Homo sapiens: one gene and its partners. The protein of the gene in region 2 interacts with the protein of the main gene of each other region in a biochemical or structural test. Each region holds a gene or a part of one and is shown on either strand. Other genes may lie near its edges.

Region 1 (8,176 bases), on a different chromosome or scaffold from region 2:
ATAAGAGAATGTGGGAGTTAACACTGGAGAGATATGTCGGGGTCAGAGGATGTCAGGTTTGTTTATTAGGAGTTTAAGAGTGCAATTCATAATTTTTGAATGGTGTATGAACAGAGCTTTGTTTTAGGAACACTAAACTGAAAGAATATGCATGTGAAGAAGGAGGCTGAAGTTAGGGGAATGTTTAGGAGACTGTTAAGGAATCCAAACCAGACTTGACTGCATTAGTGTGGTTTAATCTGGGCTGGAAAGTTGGACAAGAAGAGTACTTTGAGTGCATGGTTTTCTTTTTTTTTTTTTTTTTATTTTGAGATGGAGTTTTTGCTCTTGTTGCCCAGGCTAGAGTGCAGGCCCAGACGTGATCTTGGCTCACTGCAACCTCCGCCTCCTGAGTTCAAGCAGTTCTCCTGCCTCAGCCTCCTAATTAGCTGGGATTACAGATGTGCGCCACCACACCCGGCTAATTTTTGTATTTTTAGTAGAGATGGGGTTTCACCATGTTGGTCAGGCTGGTCTCGAACTCCTGACCTCAGGTGATCCCACCCCTGGCCTCAGCCTCCCAAAGTGCTGGGATTACAGGTGTGAGCCACCGCGCCTAGCGAGTGCATGGTTTTCTAAATACTTGTTGACTTAAATGTTCTCAGTTGCCTGTGCATATGTAAGTTTTAACAAAATATTGATTCTAGAGTCTAACATTTTCTTTTCAAGATTGTAAGAATGGCAGAATTTCATGAGCCACTTCCTTGTTTATGATAGATTATGCATTCTCCCCTCTTGCTGAGTTTTTATGGCTTTGAGGTTTATGATTATGATTTTTTTAGGGCTGTGGCAGAAATTCTCAGGAGCAGCATGCCTTGAAGCACTATCTGACGCCAAGATCTGAACCTCACTGTCTGGTTCTTAGTTTGGACAACTGGAGTGTATGGTGAGTTTCAGTTCCTCTGCCTCTTGGGTGGAAATTATTTGAAATATTAGAGAATGGAAATGTTTAAATATGTTTAAGAAGAAAGCAATTTAAAATTTTTGTAGTATGTTTTAAAATACCATCACTTTCACAAAGCTAAAGAATGCAGTATTATGAGAAGCTTTTACTTGGACGTTTGCACAAGCACAAACATTGTAACATAGAAGACTTAAGAATCTTTACCCCTTTGTTTTTCTTGCTTGTGATATTATAAGGCATATAGTGGAGATAGGGACGCTAAGAACAAATTTCAGATAAAATTGTAATAAAATTTTGGCTATGAATTTGCATGAAAATAAATGTCAGTCTGGTATGTTATAGATGCTGCATTGTAACATCATTAAAACAGATTTTTACGTCTTAAAAATCATTTTCACAGTAGTCTTCACTGAATGACATCTTTTTTTTTTTTTTGAGACGGAATCTTTCTGTCGCCCAGGCTGGAGTGCAGTGGTGTGATCTCGGCTCACCACAACCTCCGCCTCCCAGGTTCAAGCAATTCTCCTGCCTCAGCCTCCCGAGTAGCTGAGATTACAGGGATGCACCACCACGCCCGGCTAATTTTTGTATTTTTAGTAGAGACGGGGTTTCACCATGTTGGTCAGGCTGGTCTCAAACTCCTGACCTCGTGATCCCCTTGTGATCCGCATGCCTCAGCCTCCCAAAGTGCTGGGATTACAGGCATGAGCCACCGTGCCTGGCTTGAATGGCATCTTTCAATTGTAAAAGTTGTTACTTTTGTCTGGCTAACACGTTGAAACCCCATCTCTACTAAAAATACAAAAAAAAAGTAGCTGGGCATGGTGGTGGGTGCCTGTAGTCCCAGCTACTCGGGAGGCTGAGGTAGGAGAATGGCATGAACCAGGGAGCTGGAGGTTGCAGTGAGCCGAGATCCTGCCACTGCACGCAGCCTGGGCAACAGAGCGAGACTCCGTCTCAAAAAAAACCAAAAAACAAAACAAACAAAAAAAAGTTGTTATTTTTGTTAGTGTTATTCTGTATTTTAAAATATATGTAAACAATCTTTTGACTTCAATGTTATAACCAGTAAAGTAAAACGTTTGGAGTATTTCATCATACTACTTATATGCAGCCATAATTCTGGCTAATTTTATTAATAATAAACCAGAGTTAATATGCATAGTCTTCTTCAGGAAAACAGAATTTTTACGTTCGGTTTCTTTAATAGAATAAGTTGGCAGTTACACACTTTGATTCCAGGAATTATTATTTGTCTCCCCCTTTTTAGTTGTCATTTTGTCATTTTTCATCTCTGATTTTTGGGTCACAGGTGTTACGTATGTGATAATGAGGTCCAGTATTGTAGTTCAAACCAGTTGGGTCAAGTGGTTGATTATGTCAGAAAACAAGCCAGCATTACAACTCCAAAGCCAGGTAAAATAATTTGTTTCTTTAATATACACCAAATGTCGATTTGTGTATCTGCTGATACTTAGATTTGTTATACTACCTAGCATTACATACAGCTGAGTAACATTAGTTATGGTTGATTGCAAACTATGAAACTATTTTTGGTTTAACTATAAGGTATTAGAAGGGATATGAGAAATGATCTAGTCAGATGTGATGAAGGCCATAGACTAAGGTAATGGCCATTAATGCTAAGACTAAGGTAATTCCCATAACCCTAGCCAGGCTTACTATAGACCTGCCTTACACTGTTCTTACTGTCGTACATTTTGTAATAGCAAGATTTCAGTCTGTCTGCTGGGATAACATAAAGCATTTGTGATTCCTTCTAATGGTCAGATATTTCTTAGGTTCTTTCCATGCATAATTAAATTAATTGGCTGACATACAGCATTTGCTTTAAGCATGTTTTTTAAGTTTTTATTGTCACAAGTATCTTTGTCAGAGCCAGAATTATTTGTTTTTTACTTTAGGATTGATTTTTGACCCACAGAATTCATTAAAAAATTTATTTCATGTCCATGTTCTTGATTGTTTTATATTCTTAATTTCACAAGGTAAGATGTGTTCATTTGTAAAGAATTTTCGTGCAGTAAAAAAGGGAGATTTATACCAAAGCACATACTGTTTGGTTTCATTTATCAAACTAATGCTTACTTTAGGTCTGAGTATTTTTTGTTTACTGGGTTTTGTGTTTTTTTTCTGGATGGCAATTTACCTGTATCTATTTAAAATCAAATGGGTGGGTGGGTTGGAAAGAATGACTTCAGGTAAACTCACAAACTCTAGTACTGTTTCCCAAGTATACTTCTGCATTCGATATGACTGTATTACACATTTTGCTAAATCTTTTCTTTTTTTAAAGCAGAGAAAGATAATGGAAATATTGAACTTGAAAATAAAAAATTAGAAAAAGAGAGTAAGAATGAACAAGAGAGAGAAAAGAAGGAAAACATGGCTAAAGAGAATCCTCCCATGAATTCTCCTTGCCAAATAACCGTGAAAGGACTCAGTAATTTGGGAAACACATGTTTCTTCAATGCAGTTATGCAGGTACATTGTCATTTTTTTCCCTTTAAAAAAGCTGTCCTTTTCCTCATAGAATCTGCTACTTACATTATTGAGTTTTTTCCACCTGAGTAATTTATTTCTATGTATCCAAAGAAAACTTTTTTTTTTTTTTTTTTTTTTTTTGAGACAGGGTCTCACTCTGTCACTCGGCTGGAGTGCAGTGGCACGATCGTGGCTCACTGCAGCCTCTACCTCTTGGGCTCAAGCAGTCCTCCTACCTTAGCCTCCAGAGTAGCTGGGACTACAGGCATGCGCCACCACTCCCAGCTAGTTTTTGTATCTTTTGTAGAGACAGGGTTTCGCCATGTTGCCTAGGCTAGTCTTGAACTCCTGGGCTTAAGCCGTCCACCCCCTTTGGCCACCCAAAGTGTTTGGATTACAGGCGTGAGCCACCATGCCTGGCCAAAGAAAACTTAAGGAAAGTTTTATTGCATGACAGTAAGAGAGTTTGGTGAGCACTCGGGTGCAGTGGGTTTGAAAGAAATATTGCTGCTTCTTTCATGGAGCTTGCACTTGGGTGGAGGAAACACAGGATAACCTCATATAGAAGCAAATACGTACCTACAGGTAGTGGTAAGTGGTTGTGAGAGAGTCATGGTGGAGGATTGGGGATAGCTACTTCTGATTGGGTGGTGGGAGAATGCCCCACTGAGGTGATGAATAAGCTCAGAACTGAAGTAGTTATGACCCAAATAGAGTAGGGAGAGAAGCATCTGTAACTTTTCATTTTCCAAGTATAGAGTTTTCAGTGTTGGTCATGATTTTCTGTTTTGATAGAATAGACACTTAAGAAGTGTCAGAGTTGATTTGCCTTTAAATAATTTTTCTCTTTTTTTTTCACCCTACATTCTAGAACTTGTCACAAACACCAGTGCTTAGAGAACTACTAAAAGAAGTGAAAATGTCTGGAACAATTGTAAAAATTGAACCACCTGATTTGGCATTAACAGTATGTTCTTTAAACTTTTCTAGTCTGTAACTTTCCTCTCTGAATGTGTGTTTTCTAAATTATTTTAAATAACTGACACTCATTTCCACTGTTTTTGTTTGTTTTGTTTTACTTTAGGCTACTAACTTAAACAGTTTCAGGCTAATAGAAGTTATAAGGAGGCATTACATCTGTTTGCTGTGTGTGTGCTCTGTTTTTCTATGCTCGAGTGTTAAGCTTCCTTCTTGGGAATGTGTATATGTTTGAGAAGCCTTAGGCTTACATTATTATTTTTAACATCTTTAAGGTGACTTAAGAGCTGTGTAACCAAATAAATATTACCTTATCCATTTTTATTATTTACATTTTGCTTTGGCTCTTTCAATTCTTAGGTAGTAAGTGTTCCAGATAATCTAAAACTAAAATAGTAGAGCTGAATTCTGCATAAGACAGTCTGTGACCAAACAGTTTCTATCTCTTTTGATGTACATTTTAAACTTTTAAATGGGGCAGTTCTGTCAGGAACATTGGTAGTATATGTTAACTAATTAGATTTTAGTAAAGTCAGTGATTCCAGAATTTGACTGAAGAAAGTAATTTCTTTTCCCATATTCAGGAACCATTAGAAATAAACCTTGAGCCTCCAGGCCCTCTTACTTTAGCCATGAGCCAGTTTCTTAATGAGATGCAAGAGACCAAAAAGGGGGTTGTGACACCGAAAGAACTCTTTTCTCAGGTCTGTAAAAAGTGAGTATCCACTTCGATTGTGCTTTCAGTGCCTCAGTGAGATGCTGAGAAATAATATTAATATTAAATAGTAAAATATAAAAATATTAATAGCATTACATTTAGTCAACCCTCTATATACAAAAGGCATAGTTTTTTTTCATTTGGATTTTAAAATATATTTTATGTGATAGTTAAATCTCCCAAGGGTGTTAATGGACTAAACGGAAATTTGTAGAAACCAGAACTCTCTGAGATTTGGGATATGATCCTAAGATTTTCTAAAAATAGCTTCAGAGCTTAGTAGACTGAAGATTGCTTTTCTGTCTTTTTGTTTTTCTCTAGAGCAGTGCGGTTTAAAGGCTATCAGCAGCAAGACAGCCAGGAGCTGCTTCGCTACTTATTGGATGGGATGAGAGCAGAAGAACACCAAGTTAGCATGTTATGACCATTGTATTTTATGATCTTATCTTCATAAGCTTTCTGTCTCATTTGATATCTTACGAGTTAAAACAATGAAAGCTAGTTATTAAGGCCATCATACTTTAAAATTTTTTCTTACACCAGCTTTTTCAACTAGTATGTTTTCACCATTAGAATGAATCCAGAGAATTAGCAGTAATTCTCTTTCTCATGATGGCTTAAGTTTAGTTGATGTTTACAGCATTAATGTTCTTTAAAGATTCTGTTGTACTAACCTATACGAAGAGAGCTGCCAAATATTGGAAATTGTTTCTCCCAAACCCAGGTGCAGCACACCCTTACTTTTAATTCTGAGTCTGATTTAATACTGTTTTTTGAACCTAGGAAGTATTTTCATTTTGTAAGAGTCAGGGAACATTGGTTGCATTTTAAAATTTTTGTTACTTGCCAGGATATAAAAAAATGTATTTGGGGTATGAATTAATGAGTACTAATAATAGTGATAATAACTAATATTTATTTCGCACTTATTTTTATGCCAATCACTGTTTTCAGTGTTTTGTATTAATTCCCTTACTTCGTTCTCACAAAGTTTCTGTGAGGTGGATACTGTGATTTTTTCCTATTCCATAGATTGAGAATCTAGGCTGTAGAGAAGTTCAGTACCTAGTTTAAGGTCCCCCAGAAATAATGGAGCTGGGCTTTAAGCACTGGAGTCAGACCCTGTGGCTGTCATGTAATCATTGTGCTTGTAGGACAAGCTATTTCAGTTTCTTCTCAAAGGTGGTGGGCATGTTCTGAAAACCTTTGGCTTGAAGAGGTTTAAGATCTTGAAATGATAAGATAATACCTTTATTCAATGGTTAGTGATTGCTTTGTGACATAATTCCTTTTTAGCTCCTTGAATTAAGTTTGAAAATGTGATTTTGGAATTATTTAGTAAATATGGGGAGCTGTATCCTGATCACTTTCTTGACTTGATTACATATTTCTAAGGAAAATAAAATTTAAAATTTAATAGTATATATATATCCATTTTATTACTTTTAGAGAGTGAGTAAAGGAATACTTAAAGCATTTGGTAATTCTACTGAAAAGTTGGATGAAGAACTAAAAAATAAAGTTAAAGGTAATGTCTGACTTTTTGAACTAAAACACTATAGTTGAATTCCTCTGTACCTTAGGACAAGATTGCTGGCACATATATTTCCAAGTCCACAATTATTAATGTATAATTTCTCTTTATCAACGTTGATTAGTAAAAATTATTCAGTGCTCCAGAAGTGAACAGTTTTACCCCATGGTGTATTCTTTTTATGTATTAAAGATAGAACTATGATGAATTACAGTTTTACTTTTCAAAAGCTTAAAATTATAATTAGCAGTAATACATGAATTATATTTGTTACTGTGAGTTGTCAGTAGTTGGTTTATTAATCATGGAGCCAACTTAGTTCTTATTATGTGGCGTGTAAAGATTTAGGGCAGATCTGCCCAGTAGAACTTCCTATGTTGATGGAACTCCTCTATACCTTTGCTGTTCCATATAGAAGCAACTAGGCACGTGTGGCGCCTGAAATGTGACTGGTGAAACTGAGGAACTACATTTTTATTTTTATTTAATTGTAATTAAATTTAAATAGCCGTAAGTGACTAAGGGCACTGTATTATAAAGCACAGATTTGAATCAACTCATAGCAACTCTTTGCCTCCTTGGTGCCCTTTAGAGCCTGGCCAGTAATGGAGAGAATTACCCCTGCTGGCATTTTCTGTCAGAAAAGTGTGGTTCTGCATAAATTATCATTTGAATAATGCTTATAGGTTTCACGTATTTGGAAAATTGGCTGATCAAGTAGTAAAATTATGGCTTTTAGTTATATTAAACTTATCAAGATTATTTCTGGGAGCATAGGAAAATAAAAGGAAGATTTTGTTTGAAATATTTTCCTGAGGTTTTTCTTTTGTTTTTAAAATATCAAAGGAGTTCAGTCTTAGAGTTCACAAAACAAGTTACATGCATTTTCTCTCCCAGTTTGCTACTCTGGTATCTTTTATCAGTCTTGAATGTTAGAATGTTAGAGCTAGAACTAAGGAACTAGGCTGTCATTCAGCCTACTCTGAGCTGTTCATTTTATACTAATGGAGAGAGAGAGAAAGACATAGAAGTCTCACTGACTTGCACAGTTTACTTCCCACTGACTAGATCTTGGATAAGGACTTTTTTGTCTTATTCATAAAAGGCGATTGTGTTCAATTATGTTATGCTCAGAGGTGGAATATATAATACTGACTTCTATTGCTTAAAAAAGGTGATTATGAATGGAGGAAGAAGTCTGTGGGACAGGAAATTTAAAATAAAATTTTAGAGTTAGATAGGTAAGTAGTTTTAGCTTTTCTTGTTTAATTAATTATATAACGGTAATTGGTAATTGATAGACTTTTTTTTCTCCATAGATTATGAGAAGAAAAAATCAATGCCAAGTTTTGTTGACCGCATCTTTGGTGGTGAACTAACTAGTATGATCATGTGTGATCAATGCAGAACTGTAAGTAGATGTCATGTATACTGGGTTTATTTGCTAATATTCAACAGTTTATCAATTGTTTATTTCAAAAGCAGAAATCTCTACCTT
Region 2 (8,176 bases):
TATAATGGTGCTAATCTATGCAAGCATACTTTTTGAAAACCTAATTCTACATATCAAAACTTGGAATGCCCAGTTTGTACAACAAATATCCCAGAAGTAACAACAATACCTGTTTCACTGCTTGATACAAACTTCTAAAACGTACCTGCCTTATTCCTATCCCAACTACTCCATAAATGTCTTGTCCTCATCATGATTTATGCCCCTGTAGGTAATCATAATCATTTTCTGGGGAAACATATATAACAACAGCTCAGTGTTCTGATGAAGGTGAATATATATAATGTTGAAGTTAAAAATTCATAAACAATTAAAGGTCATTGTCAAAAACTGCAATATTTTAAAATAAGGGAGAATTTGAAAAATAGGGGCACTCTCAAATTTTCTGCCTACCAGATTGTAGAGGACGTAGGAGGACAGAGCAGGATAGCTGATAGTTAAAAATCTCTTAAGTAAATTAAACGTGAAGTTTAAAAATTTTTATTTTTACTATGACAATACTAATGAGACCAAATATGCTCCAGGATGAATATCTCTCTGTGATAATCATTTTACTTAAAACAAGGGAAACTTTGTAACTAGGACTCTACGAATTTCCAAATCTGTCCTGGTCATTCTTTGCTTATCATATTCTAATCTACTTTCATGAAAGAACAGGTTCTAGAAAATGTTACAGCAAAAATAAAATAAAATATATTTTACAAGCAGTGCAGCAAATCTCTTTATGGAATCAGAACTGAAAAATCATGATCCTCTTAAGGTAAAATACACAGATATACCTGGATGCTAATTTAATCTCACTCCTCATAATAATCAGATAATTTGAATGATATTTGTTTAAGCTGTACAACCACTTAAATTCATTCCTGAGCAAGGAATTTTCCTTTATTTAAAAAATATTTTCAGAGAGACATTTTACATTAAACATTTAGAAGTTTAATATATAGCAATATTGTATTGTCAATTGTAATCATTGATCATTTGAAAGTCTCCCTCATCTGATATTTTTATCAGTCTCTGCAAGGAATCATATTAAGGTATTTCTGAGAAGTTCAGGGCTAGATATAAATATAGCTTTTGTGTCTTTCTTCCTTGCTCATCTCATGTGATTTCGGGTAGCCAAGAGTCACAAGAATCATAAGTTTTCCATCTGAGAGCACATCAAGTCACTGAGGGGAAAACAGTTAACAGCATTTTTTTTTTTTTTGCATAATAGTGGTAATGTTCAAGATTTCTGCTGCACTTCCTTCCTCATTGTCATTTTCTTATGAAAAAGTAAAGAGAAGTTACAGTAGTTGGTTGCTTCCCAAATTAATAAATGCTGGGTATACAAATGTGTAGTCAGCACATTGTGTAAATTGCATTTTGTAGTATTATTTAGTTATAACCCTTTTTATCCAAAGACTGTGCAACTGAGATCTTTCAGAGACATTGGATGAGATGGTGTCACTTTTACCTAGAAAGTACTTTGCTTTGATTCACTGAGCATCAATCTTTTTCTTTTTTGAATATCAAGCTCAATGTGTGAAAATGAAACACTACTAAGCCTTTTCAGGTATGTATTTGAAATGTTATGTATATGCCTATTTAATTAAGTTTCAAGTGAATCCATATTCAGAAGGACATAATGATACACAGTTTAGGAATATTGCCTCCGAATTAAAGGCAATCTGGCTGTCTTTCTGCCTTATGTCTAACCTTAAACATTCTCTAAGACACCTCTGACTCAGCATACTGTGTCTAAAACCACATAGTATATTTATTTTTAAAACACTTGTAAAAGTTTGCGTCTTCCAGTCACCCCTGGGATGAAGATTTGTAAAAATAAAGAGCACTTTCTTCCTTAAGATGAAGAATCCTTGAATAAGCAGAAAGAGGCCAAGATGCAGGTGATTTATTTAAGTCTGTGTCAATGATAATGATGTCATGGTTTCCAGCACACTGTGTCCACCCCATTGTGGGACGAAAGAATGTCAAGGACAATTCCAAACACAAAACTTTGATTGTGCTGGAACCGGAAAGGCACAGTAAGAACTCCACTGCGCTCTTCAGTTCAAAACCTGCATCCTGCAGACAAACTCCAGAAAGCATGGGAGAAAGAGCAAAGGAGAGAGGGCTTATCTCAGAGTAAAGCTATGTGCTGAGGTATGACTGTAGACAGCCAGGCACCGGGGATAAAACACTACTAAATAAAACTGCACCAGAATTAGAGTTATTGTCTATATTGTGTGTTTTGAACAATAAATAAGAAAAATATTTTATCAGAAGAAAAATGTGTTATCTCAGAGTCAGGATAAACAATGAGTAGCTTTTTAAGACCAATTTCTTTTCATTAGACATCAAGGCACCACATCAGAGCACTTTTAGAACAATAAAAAAAAAGAACAATAAATCATTAGTAATCATTAGAACTAGACAGGTAATAGCCGGGTAAGTTTCTTGGTCCAAATAGCCAAATGAGATTAGGGATTTACATTTTATTTAATTATTGTGACTCCAGAATGCTGGTTTATTTACCATAAAGGTAAGAGCAAAGAACAGCCTGTTCACTTGTATCACAGGCACCATTAACTACAGGTGATAACAGGGTCTGCAATGCATTCATATGGATTACTGTATATTAAAACGTTTAGAATTATGATCCATGACCAACACAAAAAGCTGCCACAATCACAAACTACTACAGCTTGACATTGCTGTTTGGCTGTTTTTCAACTATTGATATTAAATTTTTTAAATTAAACTTTTTTAAAAGAGGTTTGGGGCTGTACATTTGTTACATTGTTATTAATTATTCTTCTAAGGGTGGAAATTCTAGTAATTGGTCCTTACCCTTGATTTCTAGATATTAAAATTTAAAGCATCAGAACATTCATTCTTATAGCCCTGCATATCTAGTTCATTAACAAATATGAATAGCTAACACCAGCTCATTTAAATAGTATGTCTTACATGAGTTCTCGCCACACTCTGTTTCTGTCACACTGCTCCCAAGAATCATTGGCTCTTATTATACATGTAAATGGCTATCATAAAAATAAAAATTTCATTTAAGATTGTTAATGACTTCTGCAGCAGTCAGACTTCCTTTAATGATCATCCTCTGCCCCTAATTAAACGTATTTATCTTTCAAGCATCTTTGGCTGAGTTCTCCCTCATAGTTGAAAATCTAAAACCTTAAGGCTTAATGGATATAACGATAAATGTTTATGTGTGGGATTGCTGAGATTCGAGAAACCTTCACCGAAAGCAAAATTGGAAACGGAAAGAGTAGAAAACTTGGCACAGTATGTTAGGAAAACGAAAAACAAATACACTGTACTCAAATTGCCATCAGTCTTTTTTCTTTTTCTTTCATCTCACATTTAATTTTCTTTCGTAGTGGAAGTGCTTTTATTATCCTCCTTCCAGTATACCAAACAATTATTCTGCCTATGTTTGATGGTTTATAGTCTGCGACATCACAACAGCATATAGGTAGACTCCTTCCCAGCCACTTCACCTATTTATAAAAATGCTTTTGTTGCTTATGTTGTCAAAGAAAAAACAAGGTGGGGTAAACAATGATAACTCTCAGTGGGTCCTGGGAATAGAGATGAAGGTGACATGAGGTCTGAATTAGAGAGGTCATTTAAACAAATTTTCCAGGCCACTTTACCATGTAAAGATGAGCAGAGAAAGTTCACAGGAATAAGATTTCTTGTATTTTGTTAAACATTTCATACCTTAGCGATTCTCCGTCATAAGTGAATTTTAGACCAAGACATTTCCCGTTTGCACAGTGTTGTCGGAAGTTTTAGTTTGAATATAATTTACCTTAGTTTTATTATAGTTGGCCTGGGACCATTTTTACTTCCCTTGAGAGTCCCACCAAACAGCAGGAATCATTATCAAGTACTTAGCTGATAAATAATAAGAAAGCTACCTGACCAGGTAAAAGTGTGAAATCACATTCACACTTAACAAAAGGGAATCATTAAACGATTGAATTCCAATAGGAGGTGTCAGACAGACACTGAAGCTACATTAAACTGACAGTTATTTGGTTTGAAATGCTACATAATTTCCACACAAAATATTTTTATATACATATATATGTTGTGAGTTTTTACATTTGCTTCCATTTCCTATCATGAAAGTATAGATCTTGATCATGTTACATAATTTGCACATTGTAAATGTGGTGCAAATACCTCATGTTATGTGTTGAAAGTGTGGTTCATGTTTGACTTGCATCAAAACTGAAATATAATCCCTTCCTAAGATGTAACTGCCGCAATGTGATAACATTACTATCACTTCATAATCTGTCACCAGCTTTGGTATCTCTATTCTGCAAGGGCTCAATGGAAAGAAATATTTTAATTATTTGGTTGTGGGCGATCTGCTAGGTGGAACAGATTAGTTGAAGATGTGAAGATGGTACAGGAAGAGGCCAAGTGATTTTAGACACTTACCTGGACCATCTACAGAGGCTTGTAGAATCTCGTTGTTGTGCCAGGGGTGTTCCACTCCACCCTCCCTTATTTCATCTTCCTCTTCCTCTCTTGGCAACAGAGCTTGGCTCACGTGTGGGGAGGACTCATGGTTGGGCACACTAGCTGGACTCGTCTCCTGGTCCAGAGGGTTGGCAATACCGTCATCCTCAGCAATATGAAGCTTGTCTTCCTCATCTGTTTCAGAACCTGTGTCCACTACATTGTCATAGTTCACCACTGCAGAAGAAGCACAAAACACACTCTCTAAACACTCTGTTGAGAAACATCAGCCACCCCTAATTGTTTAGTTAAATGGAAAATAATTAATATTTTCATAACTGAATTACTCAACCATGTCAGGAAAATATAATTAATATCCTTCAGGTTTTAGCATTTTTATTCTTTTTCAATTATAGCTGGGTGCTCTTTCTGATTTTAAACAATTTTTTCCTAAAAATGATGGGAAATTCTAAAAAGCAACAGAAACATAGACACACAAACTATGCCTATACTGCATATGTAAAGAGACGTATTGCAATATGTACTTTCGATACTCCACAAAAACTTATAAAATAGATCTACAATAGACAATTTTATTAGCTTAGAGACATGAAGTATTTACTATATAATGTTGTACTATAAATACGAGATGACTTCACTATATTAACTGTGGTTTTTTCCCTAGAAACAGTAGACACACACACACACGTCCATCTATTTACCCAAATACACAAACACATACACAAACCTGCTCCATCTGAATTTTCACTCTTTCTTCTATGTCAACCGTCATGTGCTAAGGCCATTTATATCCTAATCTTTTAAGCAGAAAATGAGGAAAAGCCATATCTTCTGGGCCATTAATACTACTATTGAGATGTCTTCATAGTGTCATAATTACAGAAGATTTCAAAGTGACACAGGCAAGACCAACACAAATGTTAAAATAACTCACAAGAACCGGCGGGCTGCTTTTGCAGCCCTCAGTCCCAGCAATGCTCAGTAGCTTTTCTTAAAATAGACAGCCTGTAAATAAGGTCTGTGAACTCAATTGAAGGTGGCTGTTTCTGAATTAGTCAGCCCTCACAGGCTCTCGGCCTACATGCTAGTACATAAATTGTCCACTTTACCACCAGACAAGAAAGATTAGAGTAATAAACACGGGGCATTAGCTCAGCTAGAGAAACACACCAGCCGTTACGCACACACAGGATTGCCAAGAACTGTTAACCCAACTCTCCAGAAACACACACAAAAAAACAAGTTAGAACCATGACATCATGGGAACAAGAGGGAGAGAGAAAGGGGGAAAAAAGGCTGTGGAAAAAAAAAGCGCAAACAATTTTCAGGTTCATTTTGATTTCTCTGCGCCTAATAAAGCAATCCTCCGCTAAGTTATCAACTGAGCTATCTCAAGTGGCTCTTGCCAGCTATCGGATTATACAAAAGTGGCAGAAAAGGAGGAAAAAAATGAAAAGGATTGTGTGTCAGGTTCATAATGCTTTTGGAGAATTCTGGAAACATGTCTAGTTACAAATTTTAGTCAGTCATATCTGTTTGCTTTGACAGGTTCCCAGGGAGTAAAAAAGGAACAAAAAGAGAGAGATTTTTTTTTTTTGTCATGTGAAGCTGGGGACAAAAAGATTACACCGTGCATATCTGCTCATAATATGATCTTTGTATAATCCGCGGGTCTGCACTTGCCTTCCGAACAACTGCACAACAGGTGCAAATTAAAATGAAAACGGCAGCGGAGCCGGGCAAACAGAATCTGCTGACCTGGTTTGAATACCAATTGACGGGGGAAACAAAACCTTTTCAAGAGGTGTGACCACAAGGGCTTAGGCAAGTTCAGGCTGGGTAATGCCCTCAGATCTACAAAAAGAGAGATATTCTAACATCTCTGCTCTAGCTGTGTGGTCCAGATATACCTTAGTACAATCAATAATGTGCTTCTTTTTTTTTTTCCTGGTGACTGAGATTTAACTATTTCTTAGCAACAAGCAGAAGATTCTTTACAAATTTTCAGAATGCTGGGGGTAGGGGGGAGTGGGAATGGGGGGGCTACAACAAAAGCTCCTAAGGCCTGGGAAGCTTTCAACCCACCTCCTAAAAACTGATCTCTGGGCACAGGAGGAATAAAGAAAGGTCCAGAAGGAGTGAATAAAATTATCTAAGGCTGGACAGGCATTAAAAGGCCTTTATCCTGGAAAAAAAAAAAAAAAAACCCATGCCTTTTAAGGTCTTTTTCTGCATGGACCACAATATCCCGTGTGACACGTGAGTGTTCCTGCAGCAATACAATTGAAATATTTTCTTGTGGAAAAAAAAGAGAGATAAATGATTTATGAACAGCCCTTGAGGAGTCCCAAATATCAGAACAATCTAAACAAGCAATGAAGTCATGTCTCACCATATAGGGTCAGGAGTACAGCATCCATCACCTTCACAGGACAACAATACTTCACAACCTTTAGGGTTTGTGCTCACAAATAGTAGTAAATACTTTTAAACTAAATAAATAACTGCTGTCAAATTCACTTACAGAGGCAGTATGCCATCTTTTCTAGCGCTGTGTTAACTAGGATATGCATTTCCATATGCCATTATGCTGGTGTGCCACTCTCCCAACCCCTTTTTAAATCCAGGTACAACAATTCATAACATAGTTTTTATATCTGAATTCAAATGAGACAATCTCATTCTGCTCTTTCTGGTTGACCATCTGACAATCAAAATTAAATGCACTGAGATGGACTTTGCACTTCCTGATCCCTACCCCATGCCCCGACTTCTAAATCCCAGGATTTTCCTTTAAAATGTTCCCTCACGTCTAGTCAGTGGATTTGCCTAGTACAAGTACTGTGGAAATTTTCACCATAAAATATTCTTACTCTAGAATGGCCAATACTTGATGGGTTTAGCCGCACTTACATTATGAAATAAAAATAAGCTCATTTTCCCATTTGGACCTGTTTTGATGTTTGCCCACCATCATCACCACTGGCAGAAGAGATCTTAATAATGTAGCTTTGTCTCTGCAAAGAAGAGATTCAATTTTGTATAATAACCAACGTATACTGGTTTTAAATGAGGTTCATTGGGCAGAATATATTAGGCCAGTGTCTGTTTTTGAACTTATGATATATATCTTTTTATTCAGCATTTAAAAGCCTGGAAGTTCCCATATAACGTAGCAAAGTTCTATTCAGTCCTTACAGGTCAAATAAGCCACCCTTTGCATGAGTCTCAGCAAAATTTTAGACATGTATTGGAGCTACATGGCTGGCACAAAAACAGACAGTTACTTCAAAACCACAAAGAAGTGGGAGCCCAAAGAATTCCTTTCTGCAATTCAATAAACAAGAGGAAAGATGTACTGTTTGCTGGCTCAAAATAGACACTAATTTTACATCTGTCTCTGAGGCATAGCAAAAAGCCAACTAAAGAGCAGTAATAAATGTCCAAAAACAGCATCAGTATCCAAAACTCTCACAGTAGTCTTCAGAGGAATTAATTACAATTCTGTGTAACAGTTGCATTGGCAAAATGCACCTATAATTATATACAGGTACTGTACTGTATTACAGGGAAATTTGCCATGTGATACTATGTTTACATGATAATTGATGGATAAGATAAAACTATTTGCATATGAAGGGCATAAGAATTACTGGCATGGCTCACCATTTTATGT
Region 3 (8,176 bases), on a different chromosome or scaffold from region 2:
TCTGCAGGAAAAATTATGTCTTGTTGAGAAATTCCCTATGTGTAGGACGCTTATCATGGTGGGAAGCTTGTCTGGTGATAGCTAGGAACGATCTGCAAGGTGGAAAACGGTGCGTGGGTCAGTGCAACCACTGTGGCCTCTCCTTGGCCCTTGGGCTCCCCTAGCATCAGAAATAGATTTCACTGAATCAAGGGATTAGCTGTTCACCCGTCCTGTTAAGGCTCATGAAAGCAGAGCTTGTGAGGAGTTCAGAGTTACACATACCTTGGGAATTATTTTGTAGTCCCAAACTTCCTGTCACTGATACCTGGCCATCCTGACATTTTCTGCTAATCTAAAAATAAAGAACAGGGAGGAGCAGGCCAGAGAAGTCAGAGGAAGTGGCATCCTGAATGACTGTGTTTAAAATCTCCTGCCAGTAGATATTATCAGTTAGAAGGACTGATAAGGCCAACGATCTTAGCTTCTCACTGGTGAGAAACTGATGTGTGGATGGGGCTGTCGTAGCAATGAGGGCACAGTCACTCCCTGGAGAGGCCAGGAGACCCTGCCTTATTTATTCCCTCAGCTATTAAATGGGTTCTGTTGGCATCAAGGGGTCTCAGTAAACTCATCAGAGAAAATTCTACCCACAGCACCCAAGGGCACTGTCTCAGAGGTCATTGTCATCATCTTTATAAATACAAAGCAACAGATGTTTGCTATCATAAGATATTCTAGGTCCTTCAAAAGAGGCAAAGACCTTGGCAGGGCTCTCTTTGCCAGTGGAGTCCGCCTCTATTTGATCATCATAAGGAAGTAAAACTTCCTCGGTTTACATACCTACTTCTCTTACAAAGTTTGGGAAGTCAAATAGGGAGCAAGACCTTCTGCAAATGTCAGCCCCAGACTCTGTTAGGGTTGCGTGTTGGTTACTTGTTTTCTCAAGAATTTCTCTTTTCAACTTTTAAAGAGCGAGCATACAAACCCTGCAAACATTTTATTGAGAGAAAGCCAAGGGCACACCAATGAGATGAGAACAGCCCTGGTTTCTCATTCTTCTGCAACATAATATTAAACATGGATAAGCTAAAGGTGTATGAAAAAAATTACAAGAAAGATATTGTGAAGTTGTTCATAATTGGAAAGATGAATAGATTGGATTATTATAAGTCAGCCCAAGGTAGGTAAATTATCTTGACCACTGAGAGTGATGGAGAATCTGTTTATATGTGTTTCCTTGGGGACAATTAATTAGCCAGCCAGCAGGACTTCCTTCCTTCCTTCTTTCCTTCCTTCCTCCCTTCCTTCCTTCCTTCCTCCCTCCCTTCCTTCCTTTTTTCCTACTTTTTTTGCTAGAATAAATTAAAACTATGATTACTGAATAGTCTTGGCTCTTGGGTTTAGGGCCTGGCTATTTAGTTGAGGGAAGGCTGTCCATTCCTCTTTGTGTGTTCATCCATTTGGTCAGCAGATACTAAGGAGGGCCATCTTATACAGGGCACTGTGTTGAGACAGGGAGGTGTGGGGAACCATGTTTTTGTCAGCCAGAGCTGGGTGTGTTAGAAAGGGAAGAGGTGGGGCTGAAGCTTCTGCAGGCAGCTGCGCTGTAACCTGCTGTCTAGAAGTTCCCAGGCAGCTCTGCCAGTCTTGCTCCTCAGCTCTGGCTTCCAGCCCGTTGCTTAGAGGGCTAGTTCTCCCCTCCTTCCTTGCTTCCCTCTCCATTTATTTCAGTTCCGGCTTCCATGCCAGCGAAGAGCCACTTCCTTTGACCATTCTTCTCTGCTCTAGTAGGTTGTCTTCACTCCCTGAGAACTTGGTCAGGACCATCTGCATCAGAATGATCTCAGGGTCTTGTTAAAAATGCCAGTTCCCAGACCTTACCCAGACCTACTGAGTTGGAATATGAATCAGCATCTGTTGTGGGGGTGGAATTTACATTTCTGATAAGAGGTGGTGGTGAGCCACCACAACTAAATTTTGAGATTCCCCTCTTTCAAACCATGTTACATTTGGCAACATGAAGACGGAGGGGGCTTCAAGGAGGCACAAAGCTCAGTGGTCCACAGCTCAGTTGGCTCTAGAGTTCAAATATTATGATTCCAAGCTCTGCCACTCACCAGCCTGAACTTGTTTCTGTACCTCTCTAAGCTATGGTTCCTTCTTACAAAACACAAATGGATAATGCCTGCCTCCACTGGCAGGGAAACTATGTCTGGTGTGCAGTAGGTACTCAATAAATGTTAGCAAGTTATGTTCTGGTTACTATAGGAAAAAGACATATGAGTTTTTTTTAACTGTAATGATGGGAAGCCCACGCTCCAGAACCCCGGACCTGTCAGTCATGTCTAATTTGCAGGAGCTGAAGGCTGCACATGTTCCTGCTGGGGGAAGCGGAGCCTGAACAGCCGGTCCAAAAAGGAGAGGGGCCTTTGAGCACGAAGAGGAGGGAGGGCATCTGCGTGGGTCACTGGAGGGGGCACCTGGAAGAGGTCTAGGGAAACATTCCCCTCAGCTGAGGCCGGGGATCCAGTGGGATGAATCAGATTGGGACATAGGAACCCCTAAACTTGCTCCCAGTCTACCACCTCCACCCTCTCAGAACCCGATCATGGGCCCAGCAATGCTTCCCTCTTCTGCTTTAGTAATAGAAAAAGAGCACCGGATTAGGAGTCAGAGAATAAAGGCAAATCCCTTAATCTGAGTCTCTGTTTTCTTATTCATAAAATAGAGATAATAATGCCCTTCAGAATATATCTGTGAATTTGGTAAATTTTAAATCCTTCTGTAAATATAAGGTATTATTATTTTTAGTCCTTTCTTCTCCCATGGTTCTCTATTTAGCCTTCTTATTAAAAAAATAAAACCTAGGCTGGGCATGGTGGCTCACGCCGGTAATCCCAGCACTTTGGGAGGCTGAGGCAGGTGGATCGTTTGAGGTCAGGAGTTTGAGACCAGCCTGGCCAATGTGGTGAAACTCCATCTCTACTAAAAATACAAAAATTAGCTGGATGTGGTATTGCACGCTTGTAACCCCAACTTCTGAGGCAGGAGAATCGCTTGAACCTGGGAAGCGGAGGTTTCAGTGAGCTGAGATAATGCCATTGCACTCCAGCCTAAGTGACAGAGTGAGACTCGTCTCAAAAACAAAACAAAACAAAACAAAACAACACCCTTTACTTAAACTTGCTATCCCCTCAAGCCACCTATCATTTCTCCTTCTCTTTCCTTTAAAAAAAATTAAAATACCAAAATTTCAAAAGAAACACAGCTGAGGATGGTTGAGGAGTGCAGGTATCACAGAGTCTGGGGCAGAGGATTCGTCTGGAGGGTTTCATATGCATGTGAAACTGGGCAGCACAACTCCAAAGACAAGGGAACAGAGAGGAGAGAACCTGGCTCCAGAACAAGGCACCACCATGCGAGTCAAGGGTCTCGAAGCCTCATCTGTAGAGTGAGATGAGCAGGATAATGATACCTGCAGGACTACTGTGAGGGCTGGAATATGTACAGTCTAGCACTGTGGAGAGCACACAGGTACTCAATAAATGCTAGTGGCTGTTCTCACTTACAAGTGGGAGCTGAACGATGAGAACACATGGACACGAGGGGGAAACCAACACACACTGGGGCCTGTGGGGATGTTGGGGGAGGGAGAGCATCAGGAAGAAACAGCTAATGGATGCCGGGCTTAGTACCTAGGTGAAGGGATGATGTGTGCAGCAACTCACCATGGCACACACTTACCCACATAACAGACCTGCACATCCTGCACATGTACCCCTGAACTTAAAATAAAAGTTTAGGGAAAAAATTTGATAAATATTTGTTGAAAAAAAGAACAAATAGTTCAATAATTCTGTCATTCTTTTTTTTTTGAGACAGAGTCTCGCTCTGTTGTCCAGGTTGGAGTGCAATGGCGTGATCTCGGCTCATTGCAACCTCTTCCTCCCAGGTTCAAGCAATTCTCCTGCCTCAGCCTCCCGAGTAGCTGGGATTACAGGCACCCACCACCACGCTCGGCTAATTTTTATATTTTTAGTAGAGATGGGGTTTCACCATGTTGGCCAGGCTGGTCTCGAACTCCTGGCCTCAGGCAATCTGCCCGCCTCAGCCTCCCAAAGTGCTGGGATTGCAGGCGTGAGCTACCGTGCCTGACCAATTCTGTCATTCTTAAAAAAAGTAAATACTAGTGTCTTTGTTGCACTCCCACCCCCTCCCAACCCCCAGCTTCATTTATAGAAATGATTGATCTGTCCCCTCCTGTTCCGATCCTGTTCACAGCAGCCTGGGAAGCAGTGCCCACTCCAATCCTCTTTGGACCAGAAGCTGAGCTACACTAGATGTGCTGGGGCTAGTGGGTGAAAAAGGAACAGAGTGCTGTCCTTGCACTGAGGGAGTGTGTGTGTGTGCATGGCAGTGGGGGGCACCAGATAAGCACATTAAACCAATTCCTTCAACCTAATGCAGAGTGTGCATGAATGGGGTGAGCATAAGGGCTGTGGGAGCATCAAGGAGGCTCACAGCATTCAGCCTAAGGGGTCAGCTGGGAGGAGACTCCCCTAGAGGTTTATGATGCCCATGGAGTGAGTGGAATGGGGTTGAGAGAAGAGAGAATAGGAGAGAAGGAAATCTGAGGGCTAAGCCAGCCAGGGCAACTTGGGACCACATGGTCTTCCTTTGAAGATCAGAATTCCCAGTTCCTGAAGCTCATGTGAGAGTTTCCTACCAACCTTGTCCCCCGGTTATTTCTTGGTGTTGCTTTTCTACGACTGCTACAAATTGCAGAAGGAGAAAATATGTCTTTTGAAAATTTTTCTGTCTTTTCCTGTGTTAGTTAAAATGACAGAGGAGAGAATTTACTCCCTAAGCAAGAGATGGGGAATAAAGCGGGGGTGCAATCAGGGTGTCCACACTCAGGCCAAGTTTCAGAATGCTTGGACCCAACTCAGGGCTGGGGGGGCAGGTAAGACAGGTAGACACTAGGGACCCAGAGGGGACAACAGAAGGCTGGAACCCTTCCTGGGCGTTTCCCTTCCATACAGAAAGGTGATCTTTGACCAACTCACCACACCAATGGAGAAATAGTTGTTCATGATGCTGTATGGGACCTGGTCCCCGTTTTCCACTTCCTCTCTGGGGATGACTTCCAGATGCCAGCGGTCCAGCATCACCAAGGGGCTCTGCTCAATGTCTTTCAGGATTTTTGTCAAGCTGCCCCCTTCATAACCTGTGGAGGACAGCACTGCATTTGCCACCACAGCAGAAAGGCTGTATTCTTGCTAATGCACAGGTAGTTGTCAGGGCAGGTAAGCCCAGGGCATCTGTGACTATGGGACTCCCCACTGTGTCTGTGGGCTAGAGACACTTACGTTCCCCGAGCCACAGAGAAGGGCAGGATAACTGAAAGTAATCAGAGGCTGGGGGCAGGGGAGGGAGTGGGTGCTAGCTAAAGGTCACAGGCCTGTGTAGCTGAAGCGAAGCAAACCCTGGAGAAGCGGTGGGCTGGATGGCTGGGAGTCTCTGCATGGGAGAACAGCAGATCCTTCTGGGCTGTGTCATGTGGGAGATGGACAGTGTGGCAGGCAGAATTTTAAGATGGCCGCTAGGCCTAGGTCCTGCTTGCTTTGACACTGCCCACCAAGCATAGCTGATCATTGAACACTGACCATTGCACTGCCTGGTCTTGACTCATTCTCTGAATTAGCAGCCATCTGGAGTCCCCACCCCTTTTCTGGCCGGCAGCCTGATCTGTCTGCTCCATGTGTTGAGCTGAACTTCTCCATTTTCTGGCGCATGTCCAACGCCATGGGGGCTACTGCAGTTTGCAAAGTTCTCTGCCCCTTGTCTTATACACTGGTTACCACTCTGTGTTTCCTCTTAGGGAAATTTCAAAATGAGGGCCCATGGCTATGGGGCTTAGGATGATCTGAATGCTTCTAGTGACGGTAAGTAACTGGAGATGTAGCATTTTGGTCCTCAGTTTTAGTCCTAATTCAGAAGATCAGCCATTTGTGGGAGAGGGAATTTCACACAGAAAACATCTAAGTGAGCACCTTCTTGGATGGGACTCTGGGGATGGGACATATGAGACTTTGTCTTTACCCTACAGTTGATTGCTTTCTACTGGGGAAAGCAGGCTCTAAGTTGATGGTTTCAGGATGATAGTAAACTCGGGGCTGAGGGAGAAAAAGCTCCCAGAGCCCAGAAGAGGGGCTTCTATTCTAGATTCAGCATGGGATGGAGGGCAGAGAAAGGGTCATGGACTTGACATGACTGCAGAGTTGAGTATTATGCTGCGGAATGTGATCCATAAAAGGGTAAGTTCAGCCTAGCTCTGTAGAGCATCTCTGTAAACAGGAACACCTGTTCCCAGGGTACCACCATTAGCATGCAAACTCACCTCCTCCCCAGCGGAGACAACGGGCAAGGTCATTTCCTGTTCCAAGAGGCAGGACAGCCACTGGTGGATGCTTTGCAAAGTTGGCCTTATCTGCAAGACACACAGAGGAACAGAGAACCATATGCCATGGGACTGTAGAATGTTTGAGTTGTCTTTTTATCCCTGATCTGATGCTTGAACCCCTCCATAGCATTCTTTGTTTGAATACCACCCTGATGGGAAACACACTACTTCCTAAAGCCATCTATCCCATCTGCAGCGTGTTAACCACCACTAATTGAGTTAAATCTGTCCATTTGTATTTTATATTGAGCTAAATCTGTATCCCTGCAACTTGCATATGTTTATTCAAATTTCATCCTAAATCTGTCCTTTGGGGTGGCAGCATACACCCCAAAACATTAAGTTGCATGTTTTTAATCCTTAATGATAATCAGCACTTACTCCATTTATTCCTCAGCCTAACTTTGTAAGGGATTATCCTCCTTCAAGTAGCTGAAGAAACTGAGATTGACAGAGGGAAAGTAGTCTACAACCATTCTACCCTGAACACGCTCAATCTCATCTGACTGCAGCAGCTAGGCCTGGTCAATACTTGAATGGCAGACAGGGAAAGTAATTCCAGAGCCAGGATTCAAACCCAGATCTCTATGGCTCCAAGTCCATTCCCCTCCTCTCTTCAGGGGCCAGGCAGGTATACAGATTAGTAAAACAGGTGGGGCTAGGACACTAGGGAATAGTGGGACATTGGACAAGCTGAAGATGCTCACCTTCAACTGTTCACCACTCGAGTTTAAAAGTTTAAAAACTAACATTAGCTAAATGAACAAAACCTCCAGGTGTTATTTGGCCCCCACAACCAGTTTGTCACTTCCACCACCTCTCAGAATTGCAATGACACAGATTCCTAATTATTCCTCTTCTGACAGTTGTGAAGGACATCAGACAGAACCATCAGAGAAAGCACAATAGAACATGTTTTCATCTGGCCTCAGATCTACCGTGGCATATTGTCTAGGCTGGGAGAGCTGAAGAGGGCACAGGCATCCATCAGTCTTGGGGGTGGGTGGGTATTTCCATGAGACCTCAGCACGCATGGTGCCCCTGGATGTGAGCAATGTGATTGCGGCGTGAGGAGAGATGCAGGAATCAGCAGGGAAGGCTCAAGCTAGGGTTGTCCTGGCAAACTGGGAGCTCATAGGTCCTCCAGGTTGTCTGACCTATATCAGAAATGGCTGAGCGCAGGCAAGACCCAGGACTGAGATGGCCACTGGAAGGCTTGAGATAGAGAGCAAAACAATGCAATGGCCCCTCTCGTTGTCCTCAGAACATGTGTTCAGAGCACTGCCTCCCTGCCTTTGCACAGCCTGCTCCCTTTGCCTAGAAGGCTCTTGTTTCCTGTGTCTGCCCCTTCTTCTGTGTCCCCACCTCGGCAGGTCAACTGTTGTTATGGTGTTTAGGCTAGAAAGCTGTATGCCGCCCTAGGTTTTTCCTTTTCCCTCACACATCCATTCACATATCACATTCTATGTGTTGTCTCCTTACTAGATCTCCAAGCAATCTCTTCTCTCTATCCCCATGGTGATGCCTGAGTGCAGGTATGATTCCTTCCCACTGGTATCGCTGCAACAGCCTCCTCTCGGCTCTCTCCGCCTCCAGTTCCACCCTCCTAGTGTGTCACCCACACTTTCACCAAGAAGGGAAGTCCATGAACCACAGTCCCTCGCACTGGCTCACTGCTTTCACTTCTGGGATGGGGCTGTGTGGCTCCTCATGGCCCCATAGCCTACCACA

What was found. Proteins that work in one complex are often made in the same cells at the same time.
Region 1: the proteins of ZEB2 (region 2) and USP16 form a complex in vitro, tested with the Homo sapiens proteins (one study listed by BioGRID).
Region 3: the proteins of ZEB2 (region 2) and DGKG form a complex in vitro, tested with the Homo sapiens proteins (one study listed by BioGRID).

What each region holds. Positions count from the first base shown.
Region 1 is NC_000021.9:29,034,016-29,042,191, forward strand, and holds part of USP16 (ubiquitin carboxyl-terminal hydrolase 16), read left to right. Parts: intron 1-821; coding exon 822-925; intron 926-2,255; coding exon 2,256-2,359; intron 2,360-3,260; coding exon 3,261-3,448; intron 3,449-4,319; coding exon 4,320-4,415; intron 4,416-5,010; coding exon 5,011-5,141; intron 5,142-5,465; coding exon 5,466-5,553; intron 5,554-6,593; coding exon 6,594-6,672; intron 6,673-7,997; coding exon 7,998-8,089; intron 8,090-8,176. UniProt on the Homo sapiens protein: Specifically deubiquitinates 'Lys-120' of histone H2A (H2AK119Ub), a specific tag for epigenetic transcriptional repression, thereby acting as a coactivator.
Region 2 is NC_000002.12:144,425,311-144,433,486, forward strand, and holds part of ZEB2 (zinc finger E-box-binding homeobox 2), read right to left. Parts: intron 4,717-8,176; coding exon 4,459-4,716; intron 1-4,458. UniProt on the Homo sapiens protein: Transcriptional inhibitor that binds to DNA sequence 5'-CACCT-3' in different promoters. Represses transcription of E-cadherin. Represses expression of MEOX2.
Region 3 is NC_000003.12:186,246,711-186,254,886, forward strand, and holds part of DGKG (diacylglycerol kinase gamma), read right to left. Parts: intron 6,473-8,176; coding exon 6,383-6,472; intron 5,210-6,382; coding exon 5,049-5,209; intron 1-5,048. UniProt on the Homo sapiens protein: Diacylglycerol kinase that converts diacylglycerol/DAG into phosphatidic acid/phosphatidate/PA and regulates the respective levels of these two bioactive lipids.